Homo sapiens: one gene and its partners. The gene in region 2 interacts genetically with the main gene of each other region. Each region holds a gene or a part of one and is shown on either strand. Other genes may lie near its edges. The genes, in order: LCK, ITGB7 and CFTR.

Region 1 (3,650 bases), on a different chromosome or scaffold from region 2:
CTCAAAGACCCCTCCACCCCTTAAGCCAGCCTCCCCCAACCCTGGCTCAGCAATACTGAGCCTCGAATTTTGTCCCAAGGGCGGCCACCCCGAGCTGGTCAAGGGCCGCAGGAGGGCTGCGGGTCGCGGAGATCGCCGCTCCCTCACGGACTCCGCCAGAGCAAGGTGGAGAGGGACTCACTGCTCCAGGATGCGGAGCTGTTCCCCCTTCTCAAAGCCCAGATCTCCGTCGTGAGAGGGCTCATAGCTGTGCAGAGCGATAACCAGGTTGTCTGTAAAGACAAGGGGCATCAGGGAGAACCGAGCTGGGATCGGCAGGAAGCCTGGAGTTACAGGGTGGGGGACAAGGAAGGCAAGACCGGGGAGAAAGTAGGTGGGGGAGAGGTGGAAGCCAACAGCCAGGGATCCGCAGGCCTTGTCTTTCAGGCCCTGCTGCCTGGGGTCACCTTGCAGTGGGGAAGCCGGCGGATTGGAGCCTTCGTAGGTAACCAGTGGGTCCCGCACCTCAGAGCCATTTCGGATGAGCAGCTGTGGAGTGGGGGATGAGGGTGGGGTCAGAAAGCAGAAGATTGGGTCAGACCCTGGCCCCCTTCCCCCCTGCTCTGCTCTCAGCCTCTCCAGCCTGGTTAGATGTTATCCCTGAGTTTACCAACTACTTTCTGTGTGATCTTAGGAGATTCCCTTCCCCTCTCTGGGCCTCTTTTCCTTTCTGTATTTCAGGGGAGAGGGCCACTCTATTCTTTCAAGGGCCTGTAGTGCTGGTCATTTCTTTCTCCTGGGTTGCATTCTCTACCCAACTCCCTCACCAAGGCCCCTGTCTCGCCTCTTACCGTGCCCTTGCCATCCAGTGGGACTATGGGATAATGGCAGTTCTCACACACATCGATGTTTTCCATCCAGTCATCTTCCGGGTGTGAGCTGCAGCCACAGCCCATGGTCCCTGAGGGAATGGAAGAGGGGGCTGAAGGGGCTCCCCCAAGATCTGCTCCCCCAACATCAGATATAATGGGGCCTTGCCCTGGAAAGTTCCAAAAGTACCTGAGATTGTGAGATCCTGGGATCCCCATTCACCAGCCACAGAAAAGCTAAAATAGGGGGTCCCAGCTCCAAACCGGTGCTCCCTCTGAGCCCTCAGGCTACAAGTAAATTCACACACGGCCCCTGAGCCCTAGCCCCACCCTCCCACCTGGGATGGGCAAACCGCCACAGGCACCTTTGTTAGTCTAGTTACCCACTTCCTGCCTCTGCCCCCTCCCTCTCCCTCTGCCAGTACCCTGTGTTGGGAGGACCACCTCCTAGAGATGACACACACTTTCCCAAGCCTGGGAGAGACCTGACTTATCAGACCCTCCCCTACTGGAGAGGTGTGCACGCCACACCTCCTATTATAATTCCCCTGTCTAGCTGAGGAGGCTGAGAAAGAGGCTTCTGCTCCCGAAGTCCACCATCAAGCCCCCGCTGTTCCCCTCACACAGCCCACAGTCATCTCACAGGGTTCCTTCAAACACGGGCTTGCTTCTCCCCAGCAGAAAACCCTCCAGTGACTCTGTTGGCCATAACTTTTTTTTTGTTTATTTGCCTGTTTTAGCAGTGGAAATTTTTTGTCTGATGAAATCAAGCAGAACTCCATAGATAAAGTGATAAATGTGTGCCTGTTTTGCCTGAAGCAGAGTGGGGCCCTCACTTTGAAGCCCCCGGAGTCCCTGCAGCTCCTCCTTCTCTAGGGCTGCTCCTCAGAGTGCTTGGAAAGCGCTGTCCTCAAAGTTTAATGTACCATGCATTCCAGACCTTTCATATCAAGATGAAATCCACCTCCGCAGTCTATTCTGCCACACACACACTCTCTCACACACACACACTCACACACACCCTATACATATACACACCCTACACACACACACTCTCACACACACACACAGAGGCACCCCCTATCCCACCTCCACAGAGGCATCCACACACACACACTTTCACATAAACACACACACTCACCCCTCACAGGTACTCCCCCACACACTCACACACAGACTCACCCTCCCACACACAGGCACCCACACTCACACTCAGTAAACACATACACTCACCCTCCACAAGTGCCCCCCCACACACACACTCACCCCCCACACACAGGCACCCACTCTCACACACGTACCCACACACACATTCATGCACACACCCTATACATACTCCCCCTACACACACAGGCTCCCACACCCAGGAACACACACACTCGTCCACACACCCACACAGTCACACCCACATACACACACACACGCATTCACCCCCACACACACGCACTCACCCCACACACACACATTCTCCCCTCCCCAACACACATTCATACACACACACAGGCACCTCCACACACTCACCCACACCCATGCACACATCCACACACTCACCTTACACACACACACAGGCATCCCCTCCATAGATACCCCCACACACCCACACTCACACACACACAAACACCCACACACAGGCACCCCCACACACCCCCACACACACAGCCTGTGTTCTGAACTATTCTTGCCTTTCCCAAACACCCCATGCTATTTTCTTACTTAATGCCTTTGTACTTGTGGTTCTCCCTGCTTTGAAATGCGTGCGCTCTCTCGCTCTCTCTCTCTCTCTCTCTCTCTCTTTCTCTCTCTCTCTCTCTTTCTCTCTCTCTCTCTCTTTCTCTCTCTCTCTTGAGACAGGGTCTCCCTTCCTCTCCCAGGCTGAAGTGCAGTGGCGCAATCCCCTTAGACCTCCTGGGCTCAAGCAATCTTCCCACCTCAACCTCCCCAGTAGCTGAGACTAAAGGTGCACACCATCATGCCCAGCTGATTATTTTTTTGTAGAGATGAGGTCTCACTATGTTGCCCAGTCTGATCTCGAACTCCTGGGCTCAAGCAATCCTCCTGCCTTGGCCTCCCCAAATGCTAGGATTATAGGCATGCACCACCGAACCCAGTCGGCATGCTCTCTTTTGTCCAACTGCTGAATTCTAACTCAACCTTCAAGGCTCAGCTGAAATATTACCTTTTTTTTTTTTCCTGCAACCTCTACCTCCCAGGTTCAAGCAATTCTCCTGCCTCGGCCTCCTGAGTAGTTGGGATTACAGGCATGCACCATCACGCTTGGCTAACTTTTGTATTTTTAGTAGAGACAGGGTTTCACCATGTTGGCCAGGCTGGTCTCGAACTCCTGGCCTCAAGCAATTCTCCTGCCTCAGCCTCCCAAAGTGCTCGGATTACAGGCACCTGGCCTAAATATCACCTAGTCTGAAGACTTCCCAATGCTCTTTGCTTCCCTCTCACCCCAGTCTCCTGCAACATTCTATTCAGACCTCAATAATCAACTTAGACACAGAGTTCCATGATTACTGATTTACATGTCAGCCCCAGGGTCCCACTGCCTCTCCCATACCTTTGATGAGAGTGGGGGTTCATCAAGAGCAGAAGCTGTAGTTTATTTGTCTGAAAGCCACCAGCACCCAAAATTAGTTAATAAATGTCAACTGGAACATGCAGTGTTAATGCATAGAGTCTCCCATCTGCAAAGGTCTTAGAAACCAGCAAGCCTAATCTCCAATTTTATTATTTGTTGATTTATTTTTGAGATAAAGTGTCACTCTCTTGCCCAGACTGCAGTGCAATGACCCAATC
Region 2 (3,364 bases):
TTAACACCCAACTCCTAGAAACATGCCTGAGGAAGCCACTCAGACTGCTCCAGGAAGGATGGATGGAGGACTACCTCAGGCTCTCATGTCACTCCCTGTACCTGCCACCCATCTTTTCCTGCCTGCTTAATTTCCCACTCCCACCTCCCCCTGCCCGCCTTCTGCCTGTGCTTGCTGGCTCTCACCGTCTGGTTGATTCGGACGTGGTTGCACTGTCCTCGATCCTCAGCCTTACCCTCCCTCTTCTCAGGACCCTCACACTGGGATTCGTAAGAAATGTGGACCCCAGGAGGGAGTGAAGAGTGTTCAAGGGTCACGGTGGAAGACAGGCTCTATGGGAAGAGAGCGAGTGGATAACCACGTGAAGGCAGAAAAGGACTCCAACCCCACCTTATGTCCTCTCCAGGTGTTCCCAATTCTGCCAGCACCCTGCCCTCTGCCACCTGGGGCTCCTTCCATTCTGCCCAGTCGAGGCATTTCTGGAGGGAGGACCCGTGAGAACCTTGCATAGAACATACAGGATCCAGAGGCCTCTAATACAGCATTTCAGTGCAGCTGCCAGCAAGGGCCACTGAGGGTCACAGGCTGGCCAGGTGCTGTAAATGTACAGAGACCATGTTTGTGAAGCCCCACATCAGGACACATAACCTGGGTGCATGCCAGGTCTAAAGGGCAGATTCATTACAGAGTTTATCTTGGGAAATTTGATACTGTCTCAGATTTTCTTGCCATAGGTTTAGGAGATGCTCCCTGTTATCAAGAAGCCTACAGCCTAGTTGCAGAGGTAAGACCTAAACCACTAAGAATTTTTATGGTTCCTTCTACCTGTAAAATTCTATGGTTCTTGTGAAGAATAGCTCTGAATTATTTATAAACTTAGTGAAAGCAGGCTCCAGATCTCACATTGTTTATGTACAGACTGACTGGGGACAAATGCCAGCCCTTCTGTTTGTTATCTTTGTGACCTTGGACAAGTCACTTAGCCTCCTTGTGTGGGTTTCCTCATCTGTAAAATAGGGATGGTAACAGTTATGAAGCAAGGCTTTTGGCAGGGTTAAATGAAGTAGCAAACAGTATGTACACCTAGGATGGTGGGCGCATGAAATAAAAGCTCAGTGATTGAAACTTTCCTTTCTTGCCCAGAGCAGAGCTCCATGCTGTCTGCATGTCAGATGTTTTAAGATTTATGAATGTAAGATTGAACAGTTAATGACAGCCACATGCAGACTATAGGTAGGAGCTGTGGAATGTTAGACCAAAAAGTGACCATTTCCTCTTAGTTCTGCCACCCCACCCAAGGGCCCCTTTCCACCTTTCCCTAGTGCCCACCCTCACCATCTCCCCTTCCCCTGGCCCCTCACATTATAAGCATCCATGATGAGCTGTACCACGTTGCTGGAGTCCTCACTCAGCTCCCCAACTGCAGACTTAGGAATCAGTTTACTCAGCTCCTGAGTTTTGGGGAGTTAAGGGAAATGGTGGGTCACAGCTCTAGGAAAATGGGCTCCCGGAGGTCTGGAAGGAGGGCATATGGGGGACGGAGAATGTATCTTTGGGGGAATTGAGAAAGGTTGGGATGGGGCTGGGGGATCTGACATGTAGACAGCTCTCACCTGGTAGACAGGCAGTGCGGCACTGGTGACAGCAAAGATGGGCTGGATATTTGCTGCAGAGAGGGCCTGGGCTACCTGACCCACAGAAGGGTAGTCCTGGGACAGGGAGCAGGGACAAGGTGAGCCCCACAGGTTTCCCCCACAACATGCAAGGTGCCCTCAGCCCAGGGAATCCAGGAACCAAGGTTCCACCAGCTGGAGGAGCCCTGGAGGCTTGCTATGGAATAGGAAGGAGGTAGGGAATGGGGTGACAAAGGTGTCCTGTCTCGGCAGCTGAAAGGAGGAACTGCTGGAGAAGATGGCAGGGTGTCTACAGGGTGGTTACTGGTGAGGACTGTAAGGCTGGGAGTGGGAGTCCTGGAAGGAAAGAGGTGTGGCTGAAATGGGGAGAGGCAGGGTGACAATAGGGACTCACAAACTCTGTGCTGCGACTGTAGAGGCCATTGCTGTCCAAGTGGCAGTGCCCATCACTGGGCATGAAAATGCCGCCCAACTTCCCGTCCCCAGCTGTATGGAATGTGTCGTCTGAAGTGAACACCAGCAGCCGGGACACATTTCTCCAGCCAATCTGCTCCTGAGTTACAGTGGGGGTGGTAGGCTATGCACCTGGGCATGGCCCTTGAGCCACCCCAGCCAGCTCTGTGAGCCAAGAATGTGGCCAGCCTCACTCTGAGTCAGCTTGTCCATCCCCTTGCCTCCAGTACCTTGCTTCTCCCTGCTCTCTCCAGCCCCCTAAAGAAGGCTGCTGCTAGTGGAGGCTTACTTGTGAATTCGAAAAACATGCCTCCTCCTCAAGATATTTTACTCCAACCCACCAGGTAATTGCTAAATATACAAACTACAGCAACTATGGTATGAATGGCACCCCCTAGAACTGTGCACTACACAACCATAAGGGGCAGTCCTGTTCCCAAACAGACCTCCAGGCTCAGATCCCCGCCCCACCTCCTCACCTGGCAGAGTGCAGCCTGCAGAATGGCATCGAAGCCACCTTCAGGCGAGTCCAGATTGCCGGACACACTCTGGCGCCCCACCTCCCGCTCGAAGGCTTGTGCGTCCCCCGTCAGGGACAGCACATGGTGAAAGCTGAATGGTGACTGGCAGCGCTCCAGCCGGGTGGGGCAGGGGTGGCGCAGTTTGGAGGGTACTGTGCTCACAAAGGGCAGCACCGTTTTGTCCACAAAGGAACCAAAACCTGGGAGAGGAGAGGAATGAAGGTTGTGCCAGAAGTCGCAGGGCAGCAACAGAGGACCCATGAGAGCGCTCTATGGGAAGTGGGGTGGGGAGGACGGTGATGGGAGAGGGTGCACCTAGGGGGCAGGGACCTGGTAACTGGCAAGCAAAGCAGTGAGACCACTGGCTCAGGGAAGTGGCAGGTAGAAGACATTAAGAGGAGGACACAACTTCCTGGGCAAATGGGAACTTCCAGAAGGCGGAAGAAGGCCCGGGTATAGGATATGGTAGCAGCATGAGGCAAAGGAAGGAAATTTGAATAGAGGAGAGTTGGCACAGAATGTGGAGCCAGGGACAGTGGCATCTAGGTCTTGTCCAGGGAGACTTGCATCAGGGCAGGTTCCAGGTTGGTAGGCCCAGGGCAGCTGTCCAGGCCCAGAGAGTGCCTGAGCACAGTCTCTCCAGACGCTGGGTCTCAGGCCTGTAAAACGGATAGTCTCTTGAGTCCTCTCCAGCTCTGACCTAGAAGATGGGTGTCTAGGGAGAGATGCAGGAACGAACCTGTGGCCTGGCTAGGC
Region 3 (3,650 bases), on a different chromosome or scaffold from region 2:
ATTCCAAAGTACATGCTTCTTCCATCATATATTGCTACCTGACAGTTGACAATGAAGATAAAGATGAAGTAGAATATGAGATCATTTTCTAAGGATACAAATGGCTGGAATGGGGACACAAGGGAAGATCAGGAACAACCAAGATGGGGGAAGAATTAAGTCAGTGGTTTTCACACTATGAGCCCCAATACCTAGTGTTCTCTAGAAATATTTCAGTGAATTCACCAACTTCTGATTTGAAATGTATGTATTTTAAAATATTATTTTATAGACAGGAACCAAGAAAATCACACATTCTCAAATGTAGGACTATATGTTAATTTTAGCACACTAGATTGATCCGAACATGATCCTGGGCTGTCAGGCTTGTTTAGTATTCACTATGTAGGAAAGCTTCTGCTGACATCTCCTTGCACATATTTAAACCTGTTATGATCTGTTATTGGTTATCTCTGCACTGCATTAGTGAGCATGTCACTACACCATATGTGGGCCAAGCTCAGTTAACAGCCCATCATATCTTTGACATACCTGTTTGCATGAGGTTTCATCACAGCATAACAGAGTTGTACAACACTCAGGGAACAATAATAAGCCACATATGATATTATCATGGTTTTATAATACTTTATCATGCGTACTTGCTTTAAGGTGATATTGGTTATAGAATTTACCATCAATTTAACAATAGCCTTTCCAAAAAGAAGCACTACATTAACTATACACAGTTTTTAGAAATTAACAATATTACATACTTATTCATGCAATCACCTACCACTTTCTTCTTCAGCATCGTAATTAAAGTTTTAGTCTAAGCGTTCTTCATATTCAGAGCAAAAATATTCTTCTGAGTCACTCTCAGCCTTTCAGAGCTATGAATAGAGTTACAGTGACAAACTGCATTCATAACACCTTCACCTGTAGGACAGGCAGTATAATTTCAAGGCATAATAAAGTGCTGAGCTTAGGCGACTTCTACTTTAATTACATTGCTTAGTATGTCAGACAAACTTCAGACTAAATATTACCTGTTTTTTTTTCAAAACTACATCACAAAGTAATTTATCCCAAGAAATTTCAAGCAACAAACTAAATTTATTTAAGAGTCAACCTTGTGGGATGCAACCAATGCAAATAATTCAGCTGAGGTCACAGGAGTATATATACCTTTATGTATTGCTAAGTTCCCATATTACAACTTATTCCTGGGCCTTGTGGCTGACAAGTTTCTTTTGACATCAATTATAAAAGGCATCTCGATTTCAGAAACATAACACTGTGAAAAACACAACCATGTAGGATCAAGAAAATTACATATAAATGTTATACAAAATCACTGTAGCCTTTACTTTAGAGCACTAGGTTAACTGTTTCTTTGTATTTATGGGAGAGTTATTATCTTTTATTGTCACTGCTATTTGTATACACTGCGGTCCCATGGAAAATTTTATTTGAAAATTGATTACAGTATTGTTTTTTAAAAAAATTGTGAAAAACATTGCCCTGGGAAAATGCAAGACACAAGATAGATAAGATAGAGCCTTTGCCTTGAAGGACACATTAAAAGATGCATATTCCAAAAAAAGAGGCAATGAAATGGTCAACAGAGACTTATAAGTCAAAAATTATTCTGGACAATAATCTAATAACTGTTAAGCTACCATTTTCTTCTTCTGAAAAGTCCATTTTGCATGTCTAAATGTTTCACTTACTTTTAAAATTATTCAGTTACCGAAAAAAAGTTATAGAAGACTTAAAATTTTTTCTAGATTTTATTTTAAACTAAGAAAGACTAAAAACTGTATCTTTTAAAGCATATTGCAATAGAATTTAAATAAAGAATATTTTGCAACATGTAAAAGTTATATGAAATTCAAATTTTAATGTTCATAATAAAGTTTAATTGAAACACAGCCATGCTTATTTGTTTGCATATTGTCTATTGCAGAGACTTATGTGGCCCACAAAGCTGAAAATATTTACTATCTAGCCCTTTACACAAAAAAGTATAGCAATGGTCTTTGGTCGAAAAAGTGATGCTTTTGTGTTGGTATTGTTGTTTTAATTTCTAGAGTTTATAGAGATGTTTAAAATAAATAAAACGTACAAAGGGAGCCCCCTATATAGTTTCTCCACCTTGCTTCCTCTAGAACTGTGGTTGCTAATCCCAGCCAACATAGGCTTCATTTTCTTGTCACACCCATAACCAATGCTGGACTCTAAGGTTTAGCCCTTGAATCACCTCTTAATACAGCTGTCAGTACCCCTGGGATTCTGCCTATTATGCTTAATTTTCACACATTTGTCTGACTGGTATCAAATGAAATTCTAGAGTCCCTTTTTGAAATTATTAAGCCTTCACTAGGCATTTGGGAGTAGATGTGAAGTCAGGTAGGAGGTAGTTGCACCTCTGTAGTCCATGCTAAGAAAGAGAACTCTGCATATTTAACAAAGCTCAAAGTTTTAACATAAAACAAGGATACATAACCTTTTCAAAAGTAATGAAAACCTTCTTTTAACACACACAGAAACCTCATCATAGTAGGTGAGCTCCTATTTTTATTCAATCACTGGAGACAATATCTGAAGTCCCAAGCAGATTTTCATACCACATTGAATTTCTATGATCTCTCATATGTTGTGTCCCGTGATGTGAAAAGCACTGCCTAAAGGAGTGAAGTTATCAGGAGGTTCAGACATCAGTTAGCAGGTTATATAGGAGAGTTCTAAGTATAATTTCTAAGTAGAATTTAACCAGTACTGTCCCTAGAACTCAGCTGCTTCTTCCTAACACTCTCAGGTCACACTATGCCACAATAAGGCCAAACAAGTGGGCACTCTACATATTTATAAAACTGTCACCTCAGACATCTTATATCTCTTACCTAAGACTAAGCTCTAAATCACTTTAATACATTTTCAAATAACCATATTACCTAACCCTGAGCCATATACATCATTTCCGTTTCTGGTTTTGAGAGAAGTAGAGTCACATAGGTCTGCACTCCTGCTCCATGCCTTCTTCTCCGATTAAATTTTCTCATTCAATAAGCAGCACCACTGTCCCCTCTATTATCCAAATCAACAAATATAGATGTTATCCTTAACTCTTCTCTTTCCTTCACCTTCAACTACTAATTGATTACCAAACCAGTTGATTTTACCTCCTAAATGTCTTTCAAATCTCTCTCTCTCTCTCTCTCTCCCCGCCCCCTCCCCCCCACCCCACCCACCTCCACCATGGCCACTCTTTCAGCTCATCTTTTCTTTTACAAAACTGCAACAGTATATGAACTGATTATGTCCCTCTCCTGTTTAAAAGCCATGGCTTTTCACTTCCAGTATGATAAAGCCCAAACAAAGCCTACAAAGCCTACAAAGCCCCCTTACGATCTGGCCCCTGCTAGAGTTTCCAGACCCATCTCCCACAAATCTCTGTCACATATTTTATGTTCCCGTCATAGGGAACTTCTCAGGATATTTTGAAGGTGCCATGCTTACTTATCCTGTCAGTCCTCCACACTACCTGTTTAAATTTTTCCTAGCCCATCCCTACCCTCTTTGGATAATTCTAATTGAATAACCTCCTTTAGGTGTGAATACAAAAGACACTTCCCCCAGCAAGCCTTCCTTGACCAGCCTTAGACTGG

Evidence for each region.
Region 1: changes in ITGB7 (region 2) and LCK together harm fitness more than expected from each alone (negative genetic interaction), as found in Homo sapiens cells (one large-scale study listed by BioGRID).
Region 3: changes in ITGB7 (region 2) and CFTR together harm fitness more than expected from each alone (negative genetic interaction), as found in Homo sapiens cells (one study listed by BioGRID).

What each region holds. Positions count from the first base shown.
Region 1 is NC_000001.11:32,271,615-32,275,264, reverse strand, and holds part of LCK (tyrosine-protein kinase Lck), read right to left. Parts: intron 1,145-3,650; exon of another isoform or gene 1,068-1,144; coding exon of another isoform or gene 936-1,067; coding exon 831-935; intron 529-830; coding exon 447-528; coding exon of another isoform or gene 273-446; coding exon 182-272; intron 1-181. UniProt on the Homo sapiens protein: Non-receptor tyrosine-protein kinase that plays an essential role in the selection and maturation of developing T-cells in the thymus and in the function of mature T-cells. Plays a key role in T-cell antigen receptor (TCR)-linked signal transduction pathways.
Region 2 is NC_000012.12:53,194,013-53,197,376, forward strand, and holds part of ITGB7 (integrin beta-7 isoform a precursor), read right to left. Parts: intron 2,809-3,364; coding exon 2,567-2,808; intron 2,188-2,566; coding exon 2,029-2,187; intron 1,710-2,028; coding exon 1,614-1,709; intron 1,452-1,613; coding exon 1,362-1,451; intron 1,131-1,361; exon of another isoform or gene 333-1,130; coding exon 186-332; exon of another isoform or gene 1-185. UniProt on the Homo sapiens protein: Integrin ITGA4/ITGB7 (alpha-4/beta-7) (Peyer patches-specific homing receptor LPAM-1) is an adhesion molecule that mediates lymphocyte migration and homing to gut-associated lymphoid tissue (GALT).
Region 3 is NC_000007.14:117,486,452-117,490,101, reverse strand, and holds part of CFTR (cystic fibrosis transmembrane conductance regulator), read right to left. Parts: intron 1-3,650. UniProt on the Homo sapiens protein: Epithelial ion channel that plays an important role in the regulation of epithelial ion and water transport and fluid homeostasis. Mediates the transport of chloride ions across the cell membrane.